2 separate regions of the Homo sapiens genome follow, and region 1 is linked to region 2. Evidence: fine-mapped expression QTL. A gene starts in region 2. The other region holds a variant in brackets. All regions are shown on one strand. Distances are between the middles of the regions.

Region 1 (12,504 bases), 34 kb before region 2:
CTGAGTAGGGAGGATTGCTTGAGTTCAAGGGTTTGAGACCAGCCTGGGCAACATGGCAAAACCCCAACTCTACCAAAAAAAAAAAAATTATTGGGGCATGGTGGCACATGCCTGTAATCCCAGCATGTTGGGAGGCTGAGTCGGGAGGATTGCTTGAACCCGGAGGTACAGTCTGCAGTGAGCTAAGATCACGCCACTGCACTCCAACCTGGTGACAGAGCAAGACCCTATCACAAAAAAAAAAAAAAAAAAGAAAGAAAACAGCACTTATGAAACCCACTGCCCAGTGCCATCTGCCCCACATTGCCTCCCAACAAACAGCCCCGACCCCAGCCTGCTTTCGTTCAGTCACATTTCTGGGAAAACAAATCTGCTGTCTCCTGGCACCTCTGTCTGACATCTTCCAATAAAGCAGCCACCCCACGGCCAGCAGCAGCAGACCCGAAGGGGGTTTCTGACTCAGAGACCTGGGTGCTCAGATGCCCCAGACTTCAGCAGAACCAGAGCTTTAAGCTTTGCTACTATTATTGGAATTCAAGTCATCAAGAAAACTAGACAGATGGGCCAATCTAAATATTCTGCAATTGGTAAGGATTTCACAGAGCTTCCGCACAAAGAGAGACGTATCTCAAGTTCACAGCCATCTCCCCAGCGCCCCCCACCCTACCCCACAGAGAGTCCCTGGGACTGGGGGTGCAAATGAAGTCAGTTCAGTCTCAATACCTAAGTTGTTCCAAAAATCCTCTTTAATAATACATGTAGCCAACATTGCTGCAATCAGTATAAAAACAAAGTTATTCCTGATTTTGTATAAATGAACACGTCGAGAGTCAGGATTATAAAGCATCAAGATACAAGTACCAAGTGGGAGGACCAAAGACAACTCACAGTGAAGAGAAACGCTTGAGAACAAGAAATGTCAGAGTTGTAGGACGTGGTAACAACCCAGGGTGCTGAAACGGTCAGAGGTGCAGGTGCAGACGCAGGCTTCTGCCTCTGCAAGGGCAAGGGGGCCGTTGGTGGCTGGCTGCAAAGGACCAGTGCCAGGCAGCGGGGCAGAGAGCACCAGGGGTCTCGACTCTGCAGATTGGGCTTTGCAGAGGATTCCTGTTTCCCACCTCCCCACCCCTCTGACAGAGACTGAGGAGACCACACACGTTGACCTCCTCTTCATAGCCAGCCATCATTTCCACTCCAACATTCTGCTGCGGGTGTCATTCTGGAAAATAATTCCTTGCTGTTCCTTGCTCCTTTCAGATCACAGCTTGCCTGGTCAGACCCCTTCCCAACATGCACAGTCTGAGTCCAGGAGGCCCTCGAAAGTCAGGCACAACACCCAGATCTGGTCCTCTTGGGTGGCTTATGACTGGATATATCCACTGTGTGTGACGGCCTCTCAGCTCTCTGCTGTAAGATCATTGGCACCACCAGGTCAAAGAGGGTCTCAAACAGGAGGTCCACATTGTAGCCGGTCTTGGCGCTGGTCTCAAAGCACATTTGCTCAGCGGCCGGCACATCCTGCTCATCCAGCATCTTGTACTTGAGGATCTTTTTATAAAGGGCCACCGCATCCTCCAGCTGCACCTGCTTAGGTGCCCTTGGGGAGACACGGTCCCCAGCGTCCATATTGGGACTGCACTCTTCCTTCTCCTGGCCCGCCAAGGCCCCCTCCTCAGTGAGGTCCACTTTGTTCCCCACGATGGCAAAGAGGCAGTCTTTGCTGGCTGTGTCTGTCAGGCCCAGGAACCGGTCCTCCAGCTCCACCAGGCTCTGCCGGTGATTCACATCATAGGTGAGGATGATGGCGGCCGCCCCCCGGCAGTACATGGAGCCCAGGCCGTGGAACTGCTCCCGCCCTGGTGGGAAGAGAGGGACAGAAAGAGTGGTTATCTCTCATCTCAGAACATAGCCACCAGCCACACTGCAAGGGAACGTCCCACAGGGATGTTTATTTTTAGGGCAACACACACAGGATGAAATGCTTAAACATAGTTGATGGAGAATGTGCCACCCATGGGCACCATCCCCAAAGCAGGCAGCCCCTCGAGAAAACAAGCTGTTGGGTGCCCAGACTAGATGGGAAACAGAATCCAAGAATGTTCAGGAAGAACGGGCCTCAGGCATTCACACAGCCCTCCCTGCCTTCAAGCACCAACTCCAAAGGAGTCCTGGCCCCAGCCATGGCTGGAGATGGAAGGAATCAAGAACTGATGTCCAGAAAAAAGCAGCGACTGCCAAGGCCCTTGCTGAGATAGAAGCTGACTCGGGAATGCAGACTCCGGAAGCAAAGTGTGCCCATGTCCCTTCACCCTCCTCCTTTACACCCCCTGGGTGCTCCCAGCTGCCCTGTGCTGCCCTGCCCAGGAAGTGCTGCGGGGAGGGCTTCTGAGTTCATAACAGCAGTTGTAAACCACACCTGCCCTTATCTGCCCAGAATCACACAGCACCCTGCGGTGCTCACGATATTTTTAGGACACAGTGGACATCTCCCCTCCCACGCTGGAATCGGAATCCCTGAGGAGCCAGGCCCCAGCATTCGCACTTCTTGTGGGTGCCGCAGCCCCGCCTGCCCTCCAGGTTTAAAACAGACAGAGGTGCGGGCAATTGCAGGCAAGCCGGGAACCTGCTCCCAAAACATTTCCAGGTTGAGATCAAACCCTCGGGACACAGCTCAACGTCAACACATTGGCTACTGACAAGGTGCTGTCTGTCACTGGGTCTGGCGGGGAACAGGGCCAGCTGGCATGCACCCCTGCAGTGCCTGGAGTGTGGGCATCTGCTCTCCCCGTGCCCCCAGCACTTCAGCCTCACGAGGTCGATGTGGGCACACACACTTTCCATGAGGAAACTGAAGTGTGGGGGAGTCAGGCATAGCAGCGCTAGAGGGAGGCTGGGCCAGGGCACTGGAACACCCGCCACCGTCCTACATTTAAACGCAGAGACCCCCGAACTGATGGCTAAAAAGGAAGATTAAAAGGTCCCCAGCTCTGTGTACTTTTACAATGCAGTCATCTAATCAAATCAACCCGGGTCAGAATACACTCCCCACAGGTAACACCTGCACATCCGTACTGTTCTGTTCCCAACGTCTGCCCCAGGACCACCTTTCTATCCCACCAACAGTGCACAGATCCCCAAGGGGGCCCGCTCACCTCCCCACCAGCAGGCGGCTCCCTGCCAGTCCACTCAAGGGCTACCTAGGAACTTTCTGGCAGAATTCTGAACCCCTGTCTGTAGCACAAGCTTTCTGCATACTCAGATGTGGAGGACAGACTCCCACAAGGGGAGCAGATCTGGCCAAGGCAGGTGTTCCTGGGACAGGTGCAGTGCACGCAGCAGGTGAGAGCCCCCAGCAGGGAGGGCCGAGCCGAGCACGCCTGCTGGTATGTCCTCCCAGCCTTGGCGTGCTTTTCATCGTTGGACACATCTGCCGCACTGGGGGGACGAGCTCTCAGGAAGCAGCTGTGGGAGAGGCAGCAGCATGCACCTTGGCCCCCACCTGCCTCTCGAGGACCGAGCAGGCTGTGCATGGCATGGGCCCTCCCTGCTGGCAGGAAGGGGCTTCACAGACGCTCCTGGTGATGCATTTGTTTCAATCACCAACAAGCAAACCCCAAGTGAGATCTTCCAACCACAAAGCACCTGCTCCCAACCACACCTGCCGGGGGCACGCTTTCGAAGAGGAATGAGACTGAGACCTGTGCTCAGACGCCATCCCAAGGAGCCTCTGCAGACAGGCCTGGAAGCTCCCATAGCACCTGCTGCAGGCCAGCTCATCCCCTCCTCCCTGGGGCATGTGTGGCCTCCCGGGCCATGCCCTTAGGCCAAGAGGAGGGAGAGCTGGGAACGACTGACAGCACTGGCCTCCACTCTCGAGCTCAGAACGCCAAGGTCAAGTGCCTCTGAACAAGGATGAGGCTGCTGGGGCACTGGCGCAGAGAGAGGTGGCACCCAGGGAGTGTCCAGGCCCCATTCCAATCCCTCGCCTGGGAGAAGTAAGCCTGGTTCTGATTTTTTAAAAAGAAGCTAACAATGTGGATTTTAATCTCCCAAGTTTTAAGCACTCAAAACTAATTCAAAATTTTCTAAAGATCACATTTAGGCAAACCAAAATGCAACAGTGGCCCATCATTGGCAGCTTCTAAATTATAAATGGTCCCATGTCACTCTGAGGGCAACTTCCCCTGAGTGTGTGGACAGTGTCGACCACTAGCAAGGGCTCTTAACCACTGGGGTCATAAACCAAATTCACAGGGTCCATGACCTTGAATGAGGGAGAAAACATCATCTTTGTTTTCACCACCCTCTACCTGAAATTTACCATTTCCTTTCACCACAAATATTGGCAGCAAACTGCAGAAATGGCAGTAAGGGGCACTCATCACCAACAGGGCCAGCAGGTGCTTCCATCCGCATGCCAGATGCCTCAGACACTCCAGCGTGATGCCCACGACCCTTCAGACCTGCCATGCCTTCATTCATTAATATGTGGACCATGAACCACATATCAATCATAATTTAAAAAGGCTCAAGACGACTGTACTTAAGGACAGCTGGTTACCTTTGTATGTGACTGCACGCACTTGGGCATAGTGTTCTGAGAAGGGGTCCTGGGCTTGTACCCCTCGGGGGCCGAGGGGTCTTGACACAAATGAAGTTAAGGCCCCTTGGTCTGTGGGGCTTTGGAGCATGGACTGAACGCATGACACCTGCACACATGTGGCTCTCTAAGGCAGACTGTCCTTTGCCAATAAACCACTGTTTAGAGCCAAATAGCCAAGAAGCACAACCAAATTTCATCCCATTCCCATCCCCAATCTTTCTGAAATGGCCACACATTCTGATGACGCCAAGTCCTCAAACCTTGCTGGGCGATGCTGCCTGGATTTTGAGGCAGGCTGGTCACCCCTTGGGCAACCCTGGAGAGAGGCGCCCACAGAGACACACACTCATGTCCTGTGAGAAGAGCCAGACAGACCTGTCTACTGACCACTGTGGTCTCCCAGGCCCCGAGCGTGGACTCCAGCTCCCCCTTCAGCAAAGCCGACAGTGTGCCCTTTGGGGATGTGGAGGGAAAGCGAGCTGGGAGCTGAGCCCAGACCAGCTCCGGTAGGAGTCAGAAGAATGTGCCCTGCTGCCAGTCTGAGGGTCAAAGTGCGAGAGCTACCCGGGTCACCTCCCTCTTCTGGGAAAAGCCAGCCTGGGAATGCTGTTGTTTGGGCGACAGAGCCACCCTGTTGGCAAGCAGCTTGTGCTCTGGAATTCAGCACCTGAAGGGCAACATTCCTCCCTTCCGCACGCCTACCAGGGGTCAGCTTCAGACTGAGAAGTCAATCCGTTTCCAGTCAAGCTGGACTGGACCCCAGCAGGCAGAAATCAGACAGTGTCCCCGGAATCCACAGTCATTCTCCCACTACAGAAGATGATGATCAAAAGCCTTTAAAACCCAATACAGCAGGCATTAGCTTCAAAAAGAACAGGCTAGGGCAGGAGGATTGCTTGAGGCCAGGAGTTGGAGCCCAGCTTGGGCAGCATAGCAAGGCTCCTATCTCTACAAATACACACACACACACACACACACACACACACACACACACACACATACACTTTAATTAGCCAGGCATGGTGACGCATGCCTGTAGTCCCAGCTACTCGGGAGGCTGAGGAGGGAAGACTGCTTGAGCCAAGGAGTTCGAGGCTGCAATAAGCTATGATCATGCCACTGCACTCCAGCCTGAGCAACAGTGAGACCCCATATCTAAAATAAATTTAAAATGGTAATAATAAAGGAAAGAAAAAGGCCGGAGACTCATGCCTGGAATCCCAGCACTTTGGGACGCCGGGGTGGGCGGATCACCTGAGTTCGGGAGTTCGAGACCAGCCTGACCAA[C/T]GCAGAGAAAACCCATCTCTACTAAAAATACAAAATTAGCCAGGCATGGTGGCATGTGCCTATAATCCCAGCTACTTGGGAGGCTGAGGCAGGAGAACTGCTTGAACCTGGGAGGCGGAGGTTGCGGTGAGCTGAGATAGCGCCACTGCACTCCAGCCTGGGCAAGAGTGAAACTCCATCTCAAAAAAAAAAAAAACAAAAAACAGAAAAGAAAGAAAAATGCTTCTTCGTCATTACCACAGTACTAAGACTTTTGTTTCAGGGACACTAATCCCATAGATAACAGTCCAGGCATCATGAGGTTTTTACATGAGCTAAAAACGTCATCAGCTTCTACCCACCAGATTTCACAAGAGTGTGACTATGGGAATGCGGAGTCAGGGGCACTCCAGCTACCCTGGAAGAATGGTTTTCAAGTCTCTGTTACATAGTTCACTAGGGCCAAAGGGAGAACCGTGTTGATGCCTATGCCTAAAATAGTTTTCCATTCCAGATAAAAATGCCTGATTTGCCTTTAAAAAACTAAAAAAGGAAATAATAATATAAAAGGAAAGATCTTAGTAATGAAAGGAAACAGGAACTGAAGAATCACAAATGCTAGCCAGAAAAAAGTAAGAATTGTTGCTTGAACCCTATAATCTGTTATCTACCCATTAATGAATGCAAACCAATTAAATGCAGTTGCCCCAGCTAAAGAATTTACAAGCAAGCAGTTTTCATATTTGAAATTCTAAAATACTGCTTTGGAGATAATGTATAGCTTTTAGGATTGCTAATGGAAGAGTCAGGCTGCTCTCAATGAGCGCATTGTCCACACCAAGAAGGGCCAGTCCCGCAGGGAACAGAAGTTCTGAATTTAATCCTAATTGAATTTGAGTAGGGGCTCTGGTATGTAAGGCATGAGAGTGAACATAAGACAATGAAAATAAAATGGTGTCACTACAACTTGACCTTTTGCACTTGGCTTTGACAGATTCACAGTGTATTTGAATCCAAGGACCCTCACGCGTTTTCTGGAAGTTTGTGAATGTGCTCTGAGCCGGGCCGTCAGCCCCCTGCTGCCAACCCCATACACATGTCAGCCCCTGTATCTCTCAGAATATTGATTTCCTGTCTACAAGTATGGGCTTAAACTGAGTACTTCAAAGTCCCTCTCCCTGGAAACAGGATCAGGCATCTCTATCTCTATTGCCTTCTCCCCCAGACCGGAGTCCGTCAGTACCAATCGTGAAGCCAAAGCACTGAGAGTTCTGGTGGTTTACCTGGACTTTCCTGGAGAAATAAACAGCCTCAGGTCCAATTCTGGGGATGCCAGAGCCCCAGGCTGCCCCAGAAACAGGGCAAAAGAGAAAAATCACAAATTGGTTCAAATTCAACCAATGCAGCCAAGGGTCAGTGAGCTGCCAACCCTGGTCTGGTGAACGGAGCCAGGCTGCCGAGCCTGTGTGGCCACTACCAACACGGGCCTGACATCATCAGGGCTGGGGGCACGGGTTCAAGCCTGAGGAAGGAGCCCAGCCTTCCGCCAGACTCTCCCGCCTTTTTGCCTGGGCTGTCTCCAGGCCAAGCAGACGGGAGGATGGGTGAGTGACCGGAGCCTGGGGCTCTAGGTTCGACTTGTCCAGGAATTATTACTCGTCTATGTAGCAAATCCGTAAGTGATCTGCTCAGCTTTATGTCACCAACACATACAGACGAAGAGGTCAATTACCCCTGGTGGTGAGGGAAACCTGAATCTGTAAGAACGCCTCCAATGTCTGATCAGCCACACTGTTGGACAAACTACTGAAATGCAGCAAAACTGACCAGGACTTTAACCGTGAGTTCAGAGCAGCCAGAAATGAAGACGCCCTGCTCACTGCAGACAGGGCCCTGGGGAGGCAGGTCCCACCACCCCACCTCTACACAGACACAGGGCCCCGGGGAGGCAGGTCCCACCACCCCACCTCTACACAGACACAGGGCCCCGGGGAGGCAGGTCCCACCCGCCCCACCTCTACGCAGACACAGGGCCCCGGGGAGGCAGGTCCCACCCGCCCCACCTCTACGCAGACACAGGGCCCCGGGGAGGCAGGTCCCACCCGCCCCACCTCTACGCAGACACAGGGCCCCGGGGAGGCAGGTCCCACCCGCCCCACCTCTACGCAGACACAGGGCCCCGGGGAGGCAGGTCCCACCCGCCCCACCTCTACGCAGACACAGGGCCCTAGGGAAGTAGGTCCCACCCGCCCCACCTCTACACAGACACAGGACCCTGGGGAAGTAGGTCCCACCCGCCCCACCTCTACACAGACACAGGACCCTGGGGAAGTAGGTCCCACCCGCCCCACCTCTACACAGACACAGGACCCTGGGGAAGTAGGTCCCACCCGCCCCACCTCTACAGACACAGGACCCTGGGGAAGTAGGTCCCACCCGCCCCACCTCTACACAGACACAGGACCCTGGGGAAGTAGGTCCCACCCGCCCCACCTCTACGCAGACACAGGGCCCTAGGGAAGTAGGTCCCACCCGCTCCACCTCTACACAGACACAGGACCCTGGGGAAGTAGGTCCCACCCACCCCACCTCTACACAGACACAGGGCCCTCAGGAGGCAGGTCCCACCAGGTTTGTTTCTCGAATTTACAGATCTAAAAACACAATTGTGTCTGTTCACCTAAAGAGCTAATTCCACTCACTTTATGAGGTTTAAGTTCTGTCTAAACAAGAGAAATGGAAGCCAGAACAGGACTTCGTAATTTATAGCAGGGAATGAGCTGTTAACTTCCACGATCCCGTCCTGTATCAAGGATAGGAAGCGCTGCATTAGCTATGGGAAGAAGCATGGCCAGCACAGTGTGAGTCCTCAGGGTTTATTATGCTCGTGCAGGCTTCCCTTTCCCATGTTTTACAGGAGGAGGAACTGAGGCACAGATGGAGAAGGAGGTGGGCAACAGACACAGGAGCGGTGGAGCCCTGAGAAGCACGCTGGCAACAGGCACCCCAGGGAGTCTGGTCTAACCACCCCCAGAGGCAGAGGAAGGGGCCTAGGGCCCCTTTGAGGTGGGCTGCTGGGCAGGAGAAAAGCCTGCCTCCACCCTGTGATCCCACAGAGCACAGGCATTTGCAGAATGCAGCCACCTTCCCAGGAGCTCCAAATTTTACGCAGAGAACTATCCTGGAAGTGCCGGCTAATTCGCTGGGCAGGGACTGCAGAGCGTTCTGGTAAACAGCCCCCACTCTAGAGACAGACTACATTCAAATCCCCACCGTGTGACCTTGGGCAAGTCACTTAGACATGCGGTACCTCAGTTTCCCCGTCACTAAAATGTGGGTTACACCTGCCAAAGGGTGGCTGAGAAAGCAGAATCTGCACACAGGTGAACTGGCTGGAGCTGCACCCAGCACATTAGGCCCTGTAATAGAAGTGCTTGTTCCATAAATCGTGAGATTCCTCCCAAACCTAAGGATGGATGCCACCGTCCCAGGGCTGCCCATGTCCCGGGTCTCATCATCCCTCCATTTACACACCACCTCCTGGGGCCGACTGGGCGCTTTTGCAGTGGACCAATCTTCTACGTTTCTTATTCTCAGATGATGACCTTCTCCCTGGTCCTGGGGGTGCTCCGGATGTTGCCAGATCAGTGGAGCTGACATGGCCCAGGGTTCAGGCAGAAGGGGAAGGGAAGTCAGCACCCACAGTAATCCTGATTCACTGTTGCGGAACCAAAAACTGCCCAAGTGCTTTCCATTTCACTCTTCAGCCTTCCCAAAGCCAAACACAGCCAGGCTTCTACCCCAAGTGTTGTGTCGTTTTCACTATTGGTTTAAATAAGAGTGGGTTGAGATAGCCATCAGAAGCCACGGACACCCTTGGCTCACATCTTAAGCATGGGGTGGGGAGACTTAAAAAATACTGATGCTCAGACCCTGACCCAGCTGCCAGGGCAAGAGTGGGGCTGGCATTTGTATCAGCTTTAAAAGCGCCCCAGGTGAATACCAGGTGCACCAGGAGTGAAAATCAGCAATTTACCCAGTGAAAGTGGGAAATAAAAGGGCAGCTATTGAAATGTAAGAATTAGAAAGCTTGGTATTTCAATTCATTGAAAAGTGAGCCCTACCAGGAAATGCAAACACTGAGACAACAGGAACTTTCATTATTTATTTATTTACTTTTTCTTGAGACAGAGTCTTGCTCTGTTGCCCAGGCTGGAGTGCAGTGATGCAATCTCAGCTCACTGCAAACTCCACGTCCAGGGTTCAAGCAATTCTCCTGCCTAAGCCTCCCTAGTAGCTGGGATTACAGGCACACACCACCAAGCCCAGCTAATTTTTGTACTATTAGTAGGGACAGGGTTTCACCATGTTGGCCAGGCTGGTCTCAAACTCCTGACCTCAAGTGATCCACCCACCTTGGACTCCCAAAATGCTGGGATTACAGGCGCGAGGCACCACGCCCAGCCTATTTAATTATTATTTTTTTGAGACAGAGTCTTGCTCTGTCACCCAGGCTGAAGTGCAGTGGTACGATCATGGCTCAATGCAGCCTCCATCTTCTGGGCTTAAGTGTTCCTCCCAACTCAGCCTCCCGAGTAGCTGGGACCACAGGTGCATACCACTACACCCAGCTAATTTCTTTTATGTTTGTGTAGAGATGGGGACTTACTATGCTACCCAGGCTGGTCTTGAACTCCTGGGTTCATGCTATATTCCCAACTTGGCCTCCCAAAGTGCTGGGGTCACAGGCATGAGCCACTGTGCCCAGCGGAGAACAGAAACTTTTAAGATGAGTTCTCTGCCTTGCCAGATCGGACAGCCCCCTGGCAGGGAGCTCACAAAACATCGATGTGACAACCTGAGGAAAGGAAAAGTGCATATTCCCAGACCAGAGATGGGAGCAAAATAAGCAACTCCAGCAATGGCACCAGCAGCAGCGCAGCCTAGAGGAGCTGTGACACACTTCCCATCAGAGATTGTTCAAAAACACCACGACATGCTTTCTCCAGTGTTTGCAGGTTGCATCCACAAATACGAGCCAAAAGGTTATTTTAGTTCTATTTTGTAAAGTTGATGAGTTTTGGCTAAAGTTGAGAGTCATGGGACCATCTCCACAGGCATGATCTACATTCCCTCTAGGTTTGTTTTTTTAAAACCGATAGTGAACTTGGTTAAATAATGGTGCGTGGAGGCCAGGCACAGTGGTTCATACCTGTAATCCTAGCACTTCAGAAGGCTGATGTGGGAGGATCCCTTGAGCCCCTGAGTTTGAGACCAGCCTGGGTGACACAGTGAGTCCCTATCTCTACAAAAAAAAATTTAAAAATGAGCTGGGTATGATGGTATGTGCCTGTAGTCCCAGCTACTCTGAGGAGGCTGAGGCAGGAGGATCGCTTAAGCCCAGGAGGTTGGGCTGCAGTGAGCTGGGATACTGCCACTGCACTCTAGCCCGGGCAGCAGAGCAAGACCCTATCTCAAAAAGAGAGAATGGGATGTGGAAGCAACCATCCCCTCAGGAGCATTAGAAAAGAATAAATAATTGACTACTATAACCAACACTGTATTCAATTGTTTGTTGATTTTAGTGCAGTAAGGAAGGCCCACAAGAGTCCCTGGGTGCATGAATGGAGCTGGGCTGCCTGGAGCCAGCACAGGGCCTGGCTGGACACACCTGCCCCCACCAGTACGTGGAAAGTGGAGAGCTAGCAGGCAAGGGCCCCACGCAGTGGGCAGGCCCTCCCCCCAGAACCCACATGCACCAAAGCCTCCAGAGAGCCAATGGCTTGCCAGCCTCCACCCACCGTGATGGGGAACTGTATCTGGTCGGGCCCCGGTGCCCAGCAGTTTGGTCCTGCACTAGCCTGGACATGGCTGGGAAGGTGTTTTTTAGGTGGGATCAGCATTTACATCAGTGGATGTGAGAAAGCAGACAGTGCTCTGTGATGTGGTAGGCCTCGTCTAATCAGCTGATGGCCTGAGAAGTAAAGACTGAGCTCTTCCAGACACGAAGGAATTCAGCCCCCAGACAGCAACAAAGCAACCTTGCCTGAGCTCACACACCCTCTGTCAGGTCTGTTTCTCTGGGGAAGCCTGGCTGCCTTATTCACGTGGACTGCTCACTTGCTTCCCTGGGATGGAGGCTGTCTGCAAAGCTGAGGCTCTCCAGAGAGGCCTGTACAGCTCCCCCATTTTCAGGCTGTCCCCTGAGGCCGAGCCCCTACAAAGAGGTGCTGCCACCGTGATGTACGAGTGTGCCGGTCAAGGGTGCCGACCACGCCCCGACCCCTGCCTTGCCCCTCAGCCAAACAAATGTCCAGGGCAGGGGAAGTGGCATGACAGGGGCTTTTCAGAAAACTGCAAGGATCACTTTGACCCAAACTGGTCACTTCTTCATTGAGGGTTCCTTGCCCGGGCAGTTATCTTTCCAAATGCTGATCCAATATGAACACCCTCTACTGTGCACCCCAGGGGGCTTCCTAGCAGGCTTCAAAAGAGTGTGAACTCCACAAAACTGGACCTCATCATAAATGCACAAGTCCTCTCCTGCCAGCTGTTCAGCAACTAAACAGTAAAATAGGAAAAATATGATTTCCAAAACGAAGAGCAGAAGACATATCCAGCAATATTTTTTTGTG
Region 2 (12,504 bases):
ACAGGGGTCCTTTAAACCCTTAGAAGAGGGAAGCAGAGGGGCTGGTTCAGAGGGATGCTGTGTAGGACAGACCTGACCTGACTGCCTTTTCGGAGAGAGGATAAAACCAGGAAATCAGGCAGGCTCCAGAAGCTAGGAAAGTCTAAGAAACAGGTTCCTCCCTTCAGCCTCCAGAAAGGAATGCAATCCTGCAAGCTTTGACTTTAGCCCAGTGAGAGACTCATTTGGGACTTCTGACCTCCAGACTACTTAAAGACAATATATCTATGGTTTTAATTTTTATTTATTTATTCATTTGAGACAGGGTCTTACTCTGTTGCCCAGGCTGGAGTGCAGTGGTATGATCATGGCTCACTGCAGCCTCAACCTCCCAGGCTCAAGAAATCCTCTTACCTCAGCCTCCCAAGTAGCTGGGACTACAGGTGCGCACCACTACACCTGGCTAACTTCTTTATTCTTTGTAGAAACCGTCTCCCTGTGTTGCCCAGGCTGGTCTTGAACTCCTAGGTTCAGGTGATCCTTTCACTTCAGCCTCCTAAAATGCTGGGATTACAGGCAGGAGCTACCATGCCCAGCAAATTTGTGTTGTTTTAAGTAACTAATTTGTTATAGCAGCAATAGGAAACTGACACAGACTTTGGAACTGGGAGCAGAGAGAGGCTGTCACGAATATGGAAGTGGCTTTAGAACTGGGCAATGGCAGATCTGGGAGGATCTGAGGATCATGAGAGGGCAGCCCGGATTGGCCTAAACAGATGGTTGGCAGGAAGGTGCACATGAACAGCCCTGCTGGTGAGGAATCAGAAGGAAGCGAGAAGCATAGCAGAGAAAACCTGCATCCTCGTAGTGAACACCTCCACCAGAAGGAGCCAATTACAGGTGGAAGCCTGGGGTCTGAATGAGGACTGTGTTATCAGAAGCTGGAGGAGGGAGGATGTGGTGCCAGAGAGCTCAGCTGAGTCGTGCCCCACAGCTGTGAGGGAAGCATCACTGTGTGATGAAGTTGGATATGTAGCTGAGGAGATTTCCAAGCAAAGTGTTGAAGGTGTGGATTTTTCTTGCTGTTTATATTAAGATGAGGAAGAACAGATAGGATGAGGGAAGAATTGTCGAACAAAGAGGAGCAGGACTTGGTGATGTGGGAAGTCCTCAGTCAGGCAGATTGCTGGGAGGCTCACACTAGGAGGCCCACCATCCGGAACGCCTGTGCTGGAGAGGAGGCCCTGGTGTGGCCACATAACCTTCTGCTGGTGCCTCAGAAGGACCCAAAGGCCAGAGGACTCTCAAGAGACCAAGATGTCTCATCTTTGCGGTGGCCACTATTCTGTCTGTCACAGCCTGGCTTCAGGCTCCCACAGACGTGCATCCATTCCACATGCAAAATGCACTCACTCTCTCCAACACCCAGTCCCCAGAGACGCAGCTGGAGCTGGATGCCGGCACAGGGAAGTGGCGCAAGTCTGGGCTCCCCGCCGCCTTCCAAGCTGGCTCTTCAAGGGCCAGGTGCTGGGGATGCAAACGTGAGTCAGGTAATGCCCCTGCTCCCCCCGCCTCCCGGCCGCCAGGCCACGGCCTTTAGAAGGGAAGGAAAACAAATGTGGAGAGCATTCTGTCTCCAGGGCTCTGGGGACCAGGTCTGTGCTGGGCACACCAGCCGCTTTCTCATCAGCCTGTCGTATTTTCTTCAGAGCAACGATCAGATGTGAAGCTGTACCATTCACTTCTTGCCTGCCTTTCCCCCTCCTCTGGAATCCAGGGCCTGCGGGGCAGCGGCCAGCCGGCCTGCTCACTGCTGTAGAACGAGGGCCCAAACAGTGCCCGGCACCGGGGAGCCTCAGTTTATATTTGCCAACAACAGGCAACACCACTTTAGGCTGTCCTGAGCAACCGGGCAACACAGAGGAGCACAGCAGTACGTCTTCTAGGGCTCTGCCTCCTCGCTGGGCAACCTCCTTTTGCTTCCTGGATGTACCCACCCATGCACAGCAACCACTCCACATCTGTGTGCCCAATTAGACAAGGGCTGGGAGTGGCAAGTGCCCCCTAAAAGGGCATAATGAGACAAGGTGAGTTGGAGTTGGATGAACCAAGGTCTAAATCCCACTTAACTTCTGCTGTCTTCCCACTTTTTTTTTTTTTTTTTTTTGAGACAGAGTCTTACTCTTGTCACCCAGGCTGGAGTGCAATGGCGCAATCTTGGCTCACTGCAACCTCCGCCTCCAGGGTTCAAGCGATTCTCCTGCCACAGCCTCCCAAGTAGCTAGGATTACAGGCGCCAGCCACCACACCCAGCTAATTTTTGTATTTTTAGTAGACACGGGTTCACCACATTAACCAGGCTGGTCTTGAACTCCTGACCTTAGGTGATCTGCCCGCCTCACCCTCCTAAAGTGCTGGGATTACAGGCATGAGCCACCGCGCAGCCCTGTCTTCCCATCTGTTTTTTTTTTTTTTTTTTTTTTTGAGACAGAGTCTCGCTCTGTCACCGGGTTGGAGTGCAGTGGCACAATCTTGGCTCACTGCAACCTCTGCCTCCTGGTTCAAGCGATTCTCCTGCCTCAGCCTCCCGAGTAGCTGGGACTACAGGTGTGCGCCACCACGCCCTGCTAACTTTTGTATGTTTAGTAGAGATGGGGTTTCACCATGTTAGCCAGGATGGTCTTGATCTCTTGACCTCGTGATCCACCCACCTCAGCCTCCCAAAGTGCTGGGATTACAGGCATGAGCCACCACGCCTGGCCCCATCTTTAACATGCAAATAATCACACCTCCCTCTGGAGGACTGTTGTGTCAATGGAATAGGGTAATGTACTTCTGCCCTGCCAACTCTCTTCCCCCTCTTCAGCTCCATCCACTGCCTGCCTTGCAGGCTACAAGCAGCCAGGCATTGGGTGTACACTGACCCCCATGCAATCGTTTTTACTATTAAACATCCTGTCGCCCTCTGCACACCTGCACCCCCACCCCAGCCCACCCTGCCTTGTGTGGCTAAAAGCAACTTTCAAAATGGTTCCTCCTCCGGCTGGTCCTTACCATTCTGCCTCGGTTATGACAATTACAACAAAAACAACTTGAAAAGCAATGTCTGTGGGGTGGAGAGAAAGTTTAGGAGCTCAGCAAAAGAAGGAAAAGAACAGGGTCCCCTAAATGTTAAATTCTGAATTTCCAACAATTATAGAAAAGGTATCTGTTCCTACCTCTCTTTTCCCTTCAAGTACCCGGTCAGGCCACAGGCCACCGAGGAGGCAGGCAAGGGTGCCCTGTGTCCCTGCCAACTCTGGGCAAGGGCCGCCTGAGTGTGTACACAGGAAGTCAGGAATGTGGAGAAGGGGCCTGGCCACTCTCTGTTCTGAGGAGCTCTAGTAATTCACCCTTAGGATCTTTCGAACAAGCAGCAGCAGCCTCGGATGCCAGGAAATGAGCTGCTGCCCCCCAGTAACGCTTCAAGACATCTGGGGCGTCACATCAGCACAACTGCAAAATCTCTGGTGATCAGGATTCCGGCTGCATCACGTCCTTGGTGCTGAAGAAGCAAGAGGCCAGTGGAAACGAAACTGCTGCTTCATTCCCTCCGATGCAGGGGCCGTTCCAGCACTGCAGGGCAGCTCTTGTTCCAGAAACACACCGTGTGTTAAGAGTCTGCCTCCAACGGTGGCCACTACAGGGGTTTCGGTTAGGGTCCCCCAATAACACTCCTGCATTAACCTTGCTACTTGTAAACCAAGGGCAGCAGTAAATCCCAGCCAACCAGCAAAAGCAGCAGAGGGGCAAAGCTTTGTACAAAACCAAATTGGGTTCAATTTGACTTTGTACAGAAGCAAATTGGGTTCGTGAATTGGGTTCGATTTGACTTCTAGAGCGTGTGTTCCATCGTTACCAAATGCTCAGTGTGAGGGAGTCAGCTCAGTAAACCTCATCCTGCAGCCTGAGGCAGAAGACAGAGTTGGAGCAAAGATCAGGGAAATGCACCTCTTTACCTGGGGGACATTGTTTTCACAAGATGATTGCCAATAAATTAGTCACGATGTTAACTGGGATAATAATAAAAAAGCATCAAAGAAGGCAAAAGGGAGGGGGAGAACTGGAAGTACCTCTGTGAGCTTCGTTAATTCAGTTTTAAAGAGAGAATTCATTATCATCTTGTTTATTCAGCATACTGATACACCCAAGATGGCAATTTAAGAATTCTGGACGGGGCCTTTGGGTATATGACTTTTTAAGATGCTAACATAAAAGAAGTCAGAACTTTCAGAGTTTCAGGCTTCTAAAAACTCACACTCATTGAAAATGTGTCACACTATTTCCAGTTTCTTCATTCACTTACAATATCTTATTCTTTTGTAAGGAGAAGGAAATATATTCCATTGCAATGCTACAATCACCAGTGTTATTTTCCAAAGTTAAACAGAAAGCCTGAATTGAGATCCTCTAAGTTGTACTTTTGAAAAGTCACAAATACTACACAATAAAAATAACTCATTACCTATCTTAAAAATGCTTCCACCGGAAGTCACTCCAACCCAAACCCATATGACGTATCTGAGCCAAGATCAAGCAGAAGATTAACTGTAAAAGGCAGATATGCTCCGGGCTAAGAGGTCCGGAGGCTCCAGTTTTATTTCCTCTCTCCTGACTAAACCCAACAGGGGGGAACACTCTGTGCCTCATTTTACTTTTTCTTAGAAAGGGGCTAATAACACCAGCTCTGCTCACCCCTCAAGTGAATCTCAAAGGATATCATGTTCCTACGGGTACGTGAAAACTGAAAATACCTAACAAAGCAGCCACAGAGGAGCGTCTCTGGTTCCCAGGGCGGCAGAGCAGGAACGCGGGGCTCGGGAGCAAAGGCAGCTTAGGTACACAAATGACCAGCGGGTTCTCTGCAACTTGGGTTGTCCCTGAGGTCACTGAGTGGCTGAGAGGCAGCGCTCAGCCCAACCAGCAAGGGAGGACGAGTGGGAAACCCCGAGAAGGAGGCATTTGCTGTCCGAGGCCGGGACCCTGTGCGCGGCCGGGTGCCCTGCTGGAAGCCCCGCGCCCCCCGTCCCCGGCGGAGCCCCAGGGCGGTGTGGCTCATGCGGCGCCGGCCTCACCTGCGGTGTCCCAGATGGAGATGTTGTAGGAGCGCCACTGCTTCAGGTAGAAGGCGCCGCCCACCGTGCTGACCGTGTCCGGGAAGCGCCGCTCCATATACCGCTGCAGCAGCGACGTCTTCCCCACGTTCATGTCCCCCAGGAGCACGATCTTGCTGTCGGGCTTCCTCATCTTCCCGTAAGAACCCCCAGCGCCCCCGCGCCCTCTCCCCGAGGCTGGCCGGCTCGTGCGCCCTGGGCGCAGCTGGAGGAGCGGACCCCGGACTCGCCGGGACCCGGATTCTCGTGAACGCTCCGGGACCTTCGCCTCCGGACGCCCGGGAGCTCAAGAGAGGAAGCGCGTGTGCGCGCCCGGGAAGGAGCTGGGTGCAGAGCACGGAGCCCACGTCGGGGGCCCGGACCGCGGCGGCCTCGCCTCGCCCCGCCCCCGCCCCCGCCCCCGGGCCCTTTCACCGCCGCGGCCCCGCCCTATCCTCCTCCGCCCACCGCCCCCGTCCCGCCCCTGCTGGACCTCGCCGTTTCGCAAGCATCCGAGTTCTCCAGCCGAGGCTCGGGACTGCTGCAGGGTGGAAAATGAAAGTTCTGAGAGCACCTTCCGCCCCTCCGCTTCTGCACAGCCGGGGCTGCGGTGCGAGGAGCTTGGCCGCGGGGCCCGAACGAGGCGAAGGGGCCGGGGCCCTTGGGGAACCCCCTTCTCTCTTCCACTCTCCCTTAGGTAAAACCCGTGTTCCTCTCACGCTCGACCCAGCGCCTTTCCAGCTGCGGTCGATTTGCTTCTCCGCGTGTAAGTACAGCCACCCTCAAGGTCATTGAAAAAGTTTGCTTTAAATGAGCGTCTGCGGAACTCGTCCTGAGGCTCTCACTGTTACAGATTAGAGATGGGGGCGCTTTCTAGTGGAGGATTTTGCTTTTGCTCTTCTACTTTTGCAAGAAGCTTTTTGTCCTGAAAAGTGGACAGTCATCTCCATTTATAGCTTGGAATGAAAATTTGACTATGGAAGTTGCAGTCGCTACTTGAGAAATATTTCCTCCTTCTTTTTTTTTTTTTTTTTTTATTTTTGACACGGAGTTTTGCTGTTGTTGCCCAAGCTGGAGAGCAGTGCGCGATCTCGGCTCACTGCAACCTCCGCCTTCCGGTTTCAAGCGATTCTCCTGCCTCAGCCTCCCGAGTAGGCGGGATTACAGGTATGTGCCACCATGCCCGGCTAATTTTTGTATTTTTAGTAGACACGGGGTTTCACCATGTTGGCCAGGCTGGTCTCGAACTCCTGACCTCGTGATCCACCCGCTTCGGCCTCCCAGGTCCTCCTTCCGTTTTAAAGGATAAACCTTGAAATGCTTTTAAAATATGCAGCGTGTAGAATTTGGTTAGTTGGTTGGTTGGGGTTTTTTAGAGAAAATGAGAGGTAGAATGGACTCTAAGTTAAACCCTGGGGGACAGTGTCACTCTGGCCGCTGGCCTGGCTGGGAAAGGCGATGAGACCCTGAGCAGGTTAAAACCCGTGTCCTGAAGGTGTCCTGTAAAGGGAAATAGGCCCGTTGCCTCCTTCGTAGGTGCCCTGAGACTCCGACAAGGCAGGAATGCCAAGGTATTTCGTACCTGCTCAGCCCTGGCATGTCAGGTTGCTGAGACCGAGCAGTGTGGGGCTGAGGTGGAAGCGGACCTTCTGGGGCGTGGAAAGCGCACCAGGAGACCCCGGCTCCTTCTCAGCCAGCACTGCCTCATCCTCAGAACAAATTTAAGTCAATTCAGCATTTATTCAATGCCTGTTGCATGCAAGTGACAACCTAAATAACAGAGAGGATCTCTAAAAGAAACAGATATTTATTTTGCAATAGAGCTTTGCAGTAGAAATATGCATGCCATGGTAAACTTGTGCATATTCAGAGAGGCAAGGAAAGCAAAGGCTTTAAAAAAAATGAGGCGGATTGCACAATTGTTTGAAAATAATTATCTGTGGCTACAAAGATCCATAACGAAGGCGATGCCAGTTCAAAGTAGGACAGCCAGTGGCTGGGCCATGTCCTTGCAGGACTAGTTTTTTGTGGGAGATTGCAGTGGCCTTTGTGCAAGGTTGCGGTTTTTCCAGAGAGTCCTTTTTGTTATCAGGCATGCACGCGCAAGAACCCTCTCTTCATGGCCTTCCCCGGCTCTGTTTGTCAGGGTTTTCTTAACATTAGCGGCTCCATTTCGATTCTGACAATTTTCACACAAGCTACAGTGCCTGGCCTGGGACGACACAAACATGAGTCAGGTTTGGTGCCTGTTGGCCAGGCGCAGTGGCACACACCTGTAATCCCACCACTCTGAGAGGCCGAGGCAGATGGATCCTTTGAGCCCAGGAGTTCAAGATTAGCCTGGCAACATAGGGAGACCCCCGTCTCTATGAAAATTACAGAAAAAATTTGCCATGCATGGTGGTGTGCACCTGTAGTCCTAGTCCAAAGTTGCTTTGACTATTCTGGAACATTTACACTTCCATATGAATTCTGGAATCAATGTATCTAACCTCAGGAAACACATTAATGACATATATAGTTAAATTTAGGAAGAGTGGATATCTTTATAATATTAAAATGTCCCATTTATGAACATGGTATACCTCTCCATTTATTCAGCGGGTGTTCAAGGCTCACCTAGAATTTTTACACTTCTTTCTACTTTTTTACCATCAGGAAGTTTAATCACTTCCTGGAGCATGCTTTTTGATTCTCCAAATTTTACCCCCTGTCTGCTTCTCTCACCTGAGCTCTTTGTCCATTTCTTCATCCACCTACTAAGCCTTTCTACATGGATGTCTCAATATGGCAACCCACCACATCGTTCATCTGCCCTTCTGTAAATGCAGAGTCATTCATTCTTTCACCTTCTTTATAACCATATCCAATTCATCACCAAGCCCAATGGATTTTCCCTTCTAAATAAATCCCTCTAACATCTTCTCTCTCTTTTCCCACAGACGCCCACTTGTCTGGAACCTTCTTACACCTAAATAGTTAGAATCCACTCCTATTTGGTCTCCTTAACTCCAAGCTCCTGCCGTCCCAATCACTGTCAGACTAACCTTTCATAACCACTGCTTTCTCTACCCAGAGACCTGCCACGGCTCCCTACTTTCTATCTCCACAAGTCCAAATCCTGCCCCCCGCCACACACACACACACACACTTACCACCCTTTTTACAGTAGCTCTCCCGCCTCCTTTAGCTCCTGTTGCCCTGTGTGTGGCTTATTTACAGGTTTGATGGTGCAGTTTCCTTCTCTAGGGTGTTAGCTCCATGGGGAAGCAGCTTCTTCTGTGTTGTTCACCACTGTGCCTGGTGAACACCACTGCACCTAGCACACAATGGGCACTGAAGAAGGCACTGAGTCGCAGAAGAATGAATGAATTCCCCTCCCTGGTGAGGCCAGAAGCAACATCCTGTAAGCATATCATGACCAGCTATTCTCCACTTCATTGCTCACTGAGTTTGCCCACTTGAAAAGCCCTCCAACCCCTCATCTGTGCAGGTTTGGAATTCTGTGCAGGACTCAGGGATTCCATGAGGTGCAGCCCAGGCACACCCCCTTCTAATCCTCTCCCTCTGGGGAGACCTTTCCTGCTCCTTCATATGAGTTTCTACCACCCTGCTGGCCTCTTCGATGCAGTTTAGCCCCTGACAATGACTAACGGACTCATTTGACTCTCATCATCTCTAGTAATTTAAAAATTCCCTAGGGTCAGGGAGCAGGTCCTAACCTCATTCAACACCTCACCCAGTGCCTTGTCCCTTTCTCAGCACATTCTTCTACTCAGTAAATGTTTGAAGAAGCCTCATGAGGGCAGGAATCTTTGTGTTTTGTTTCTCTTATGTCTCCCAAGTACCTGGCCCTGGAAGGCAATTGATGCTCAATCAATACACATTTTAATAAATTCGCTAGTGAACTGAAACACCACCTGAAACACTGCTGCTTTTAGAGTTTGTGGAGGGAGGGACTGTTCCCTGCACCTACCCCAGTGACTGGCACCTGGAATTCACCGAGCAAGTTGGTTGAAAAAGTTAAAGGAATTTTCCAGCACTTTGAAAACTAAACCAAGAGAATGTCTCCATATCAAATTTCAGCCACTCCTTATAAAAATGTCTTAAAGGCTGTAAATCACCGTATTCACCTGCAGGAAGCAGTGTTGAGGAAGGAGGTAGTATAGGGTTAAGGGTCTATTTAAACCAGCTGCTTAGGGCCAAGTTAGATGTTTATTCTGTCTAGTTTAAACCACTGGCTTAACAGGGTACTTAATTTTCCAGTTTCATCAAAGAAATGTGCTGTGAGGCCAAGAAAATTATGTAGTTCATTTTTTTAAAAGAGATGCAAACTGAGAAATTCTGTGACCATTAACAGTCTCATTAAAGAAATAAGAAAATATGATTGTTTCTCTTAGATTTTGCAAAATGGCTAAGGAGCATTTTTAGACACTTTGTTGTAGAACAACTCTCTTTTAAGCTACTTTCCTCCTTTCTTAAAAACAAAATATAGGCCGGGTGTGGTGGCTCACACTTGCAATCCCAGCACTTTGGGAGGCTGAGGCAGATGGATCACCTGAGGTCAGGAGTTCGAGACCAGCCTGGCCAACATGGTGAAACCCCATCTCTACTAAAAGTACAAAAATTAGCTGGGCGTGATGGTAGGCACCTGTAATCCCAGCTACTTGGGAGGCTGAGGCACGAGAATCGCTTGAATCCAGGAGGCAGAGGTTACAGTGAGCCGAGGTCATGCCACTGCACTCCAGCCTGGTGGTCAGAGCGAGACTTTGGCTCAAAAAAAAAAAAAATGTATTATCCATTTATTATGTACTCATTCAGCAGATAGGAGCAAAAGCGCCCATTCTACTCTTAAGTCCCAACCCAGAAATAGAGCAGTGAGGGAAACTGACAGCATCCTGGGCCTCAGCACCTGCTGGGAGAAAGAGCCAACAAAATACACAGCAACACACAGGATATAGCACCCTTGGTGTTGATTAAACGCTAGATGAAGAAAAGGGAGGAGGAGACGGGAGGAATGCAGGCTGAGGCGGTGGCAGGGGGCTCCATTTTAAACAGGATGTCGACAAAGATAGAATTTCAGCGAGTGCTAGAATGAGGTAAGGACTTACATCAACAATCTGCCCGCACCATTTCTTCTTAGATTTCAGAAACTGTTTTCGTTTGATTCAATACTGGTGCCTTCCTTCGGTTCATTTTCTGTTTATCATAAAAATTATCCTAGGTCTTCAAAACTAATTTAATGGAATTGTATAGAAATGGAAATAAAAGTGACTACAAGCTTCAAAAAGGTAGATTTTGGGTATAAAGACAATCTTATATATTTTTTTCTTTTTCAAGACAAAGTCTCACGTTGTCATCCAGGTTAGAGTGTAGTGGCACGATCTAGGCTCACTGCAACTTCTGCCTCCCCGATTCAAGCGATTCTTGTGTGTCAGCCTCCTGAGTAGCTGGGACCACGAGCGTGCACCACCACGCCTGGCTAATTTTTGTATTTTTAGTAGAGATGGGGTTTTGCCATGTTGGCCAAGCTGGTCTCAAACTCCTGGCCCCAAGTGATACACCTGTCTTGGCCTCCCAAAGTGCTGGGATTACAGGCGTGAGCCACCATGCCTGGCCAAAGTGGTGAATTTTATATTAGTGTGGTTTTGCAGTGGCTAGGTCTGTGCAAACCTATCCCCAAAGGCCAAGGAAACTGACAGGCTGAATAAAGAGGCTGACATACCCAGTTTCCTAGAAAGAAACATTTAGGGCCAGGCGGGAAGACTCACGCCTGTATCCCAGCACTTTGGGAGGCTGAGGTGGGTGGATCACCTGAAGTCAGGAGTTCGAGACCAGCCTGGCCAACATGGTGAAACCCCATCTCTACTAAAAATACAAAAATTAGCTGGGCCTGGTGGTGCACACCTGTAATCCCAGCTACTCAGGAGGCTGAGGCAGGAGAATCGCTTGAACCTGGGAGGTGGAGGTTGCAGTGAGCCCAGATTGCACCATTGCACTTCAGCCTGGGCAACAAGAGTGAAACTCCATCTCAAAAAAAAAACAAACAAGAAAGAAAAGAAAAGAAACATTTAATAAAGATTGGCGAACAGAAGCCGTGTCTGTGTCTTGGGCACCCTTACCTGCCAGACGCAGGCCTTCTGTACTACAGCAAAAGGGTGACTCAGAGGGGATGTGCAAGGGAATTGAAGGACGATAACATCAAGGTTGTTTCAACCTAAGGACAGGATTTACAATGAGGACCTGCTCTTACTCAAGGAACAATAAACTGGAAATCCTAGAGGCCTTCCCAGAACTGGGGTTAGTCAGAAGTGAACCCGGCAGATCGCGTCCCAGGTGGAGCTGCTTTAGCCTCCGTATGTATATTTCACCCCCAAGAAAGGTTAAACCGAACTGACAACAGAGACATTCCTCTCTGTACCTCTATTCAATAATGAGGCACAGCAAACTGTAGAACGCATGACAACCACAGATAAGGAAAGCACTCGCACGGTCCTGACGCCATTGCCCACCCTGACATTCGTTCATGGAGGTCGCCTGCACATTCCATCTTATTCAAAGGGGTGGTGGAATGGGGTGGGGGGAGAGCATCTGCTATTATCTCCGGTCGAGTGCTAGAGGCTTGAGCCCACATCTGGGGTCTGAGAGAGGATCCTGCACTAGGAACTGGGACTTGATAATGGCCTCGAGGACAGCTTGGAGCGTAGAAAATATTTTTGGGTTCACTGACATTTTAACTATAATTTTATATAAGAACTTAAATCATCAAAATGGGGGATCCAGGACTCTGTCCTCTTTATGGGGCTGCTGGGCAAACTGACTCGCAGAGAGATGATGAGCCATAAACATCCACTCACAAGCGGGAGAAAGTCAATGGAGACCGTGTGGAAACCACTTCCCCTGCTTAAAAATCACCAAAGCCGTAATGATGGACAGTGAGACAGCAGTGACCCTCAGTATTTCAATGGGACGTGAATAATGTTTAATTGTATGTTCATATATTGCTTAACAGTTTTAGAAAATCTGTTCTTCTGCAGCACTAGCCTGCTCTGCCCATCCCAAAAGTGAGTGGTGCCTGAAGGAATTCTGAGCCCCTCTGTGAGAGGAAGCGCGTCTGTCTTTTCTTTACGACCCCGGCACTGAGCACAGGGCTTGGAATACTATAAGAAATAAACACATCTTTTAAAAATAGTGAAAAACGGAGAGAACATAATCAAATGCCCATGTTATTATTCACGGCACGAGTGTCTTAGAGAATACAGGTGTTTAGGGCTGAAGTGAGTCCCCCTGAGATTCATGCTGAATCTCTAACCCTCAGCACCACACACTGAGCCTGAGCTTGAAGAGGGGGCCTTGAAAGGGTGATTAAGTTAAAATTAGGTCACTGGAGAGA

The links. PIP is the estimated chance that this variant, and not a neighbour inherited with it, causes the effect.
Region 1: its variant is fine-mapped to the expression of RAB20 in whole blood (INTERVAL, PIP above 0.99).

The regions. Positions count from the first base shown.
Region 1 is chr13:110,522,342-110,534,845 of GRCh38, forward strand. It overlaps RAB20 (RAB20, member RAS oncogene family), which reads right to left. Exons shown (of 2, transcript NM_017817.3): 2 at 725-1,856. The coding sequence ends at 1,324. Among named protein-coding and RNA genes, the nearest start is that of COL4A2-AS1, 20 kb to the left of the region's middle. RefSeq lists enhancers at 2,287-2,426, 3,371-3,420, 3,871-3,940, 8,417-9,033, 11,855-12,504 and a silencer at 5,121-5,415. The variant C/T (reference allele first, on the strand shown) is at 5,891.
Region 2 is chr13:110,556,255-110,568,758 of GRCh38, forward strand. RAB20 (RAB20, member RAS oncogene family) reads right to left here and starts at 5,468. Exons shown (of 2, transcript NM_017817.3): 1 at 5,094-5,468. The coding sequence starts at 5,265. RefSeq lists enhancers at 1,140-1,663, 1,664-2,186 and silencers at 5,028-5,087, 5,067-5,256, 5,148-5,597.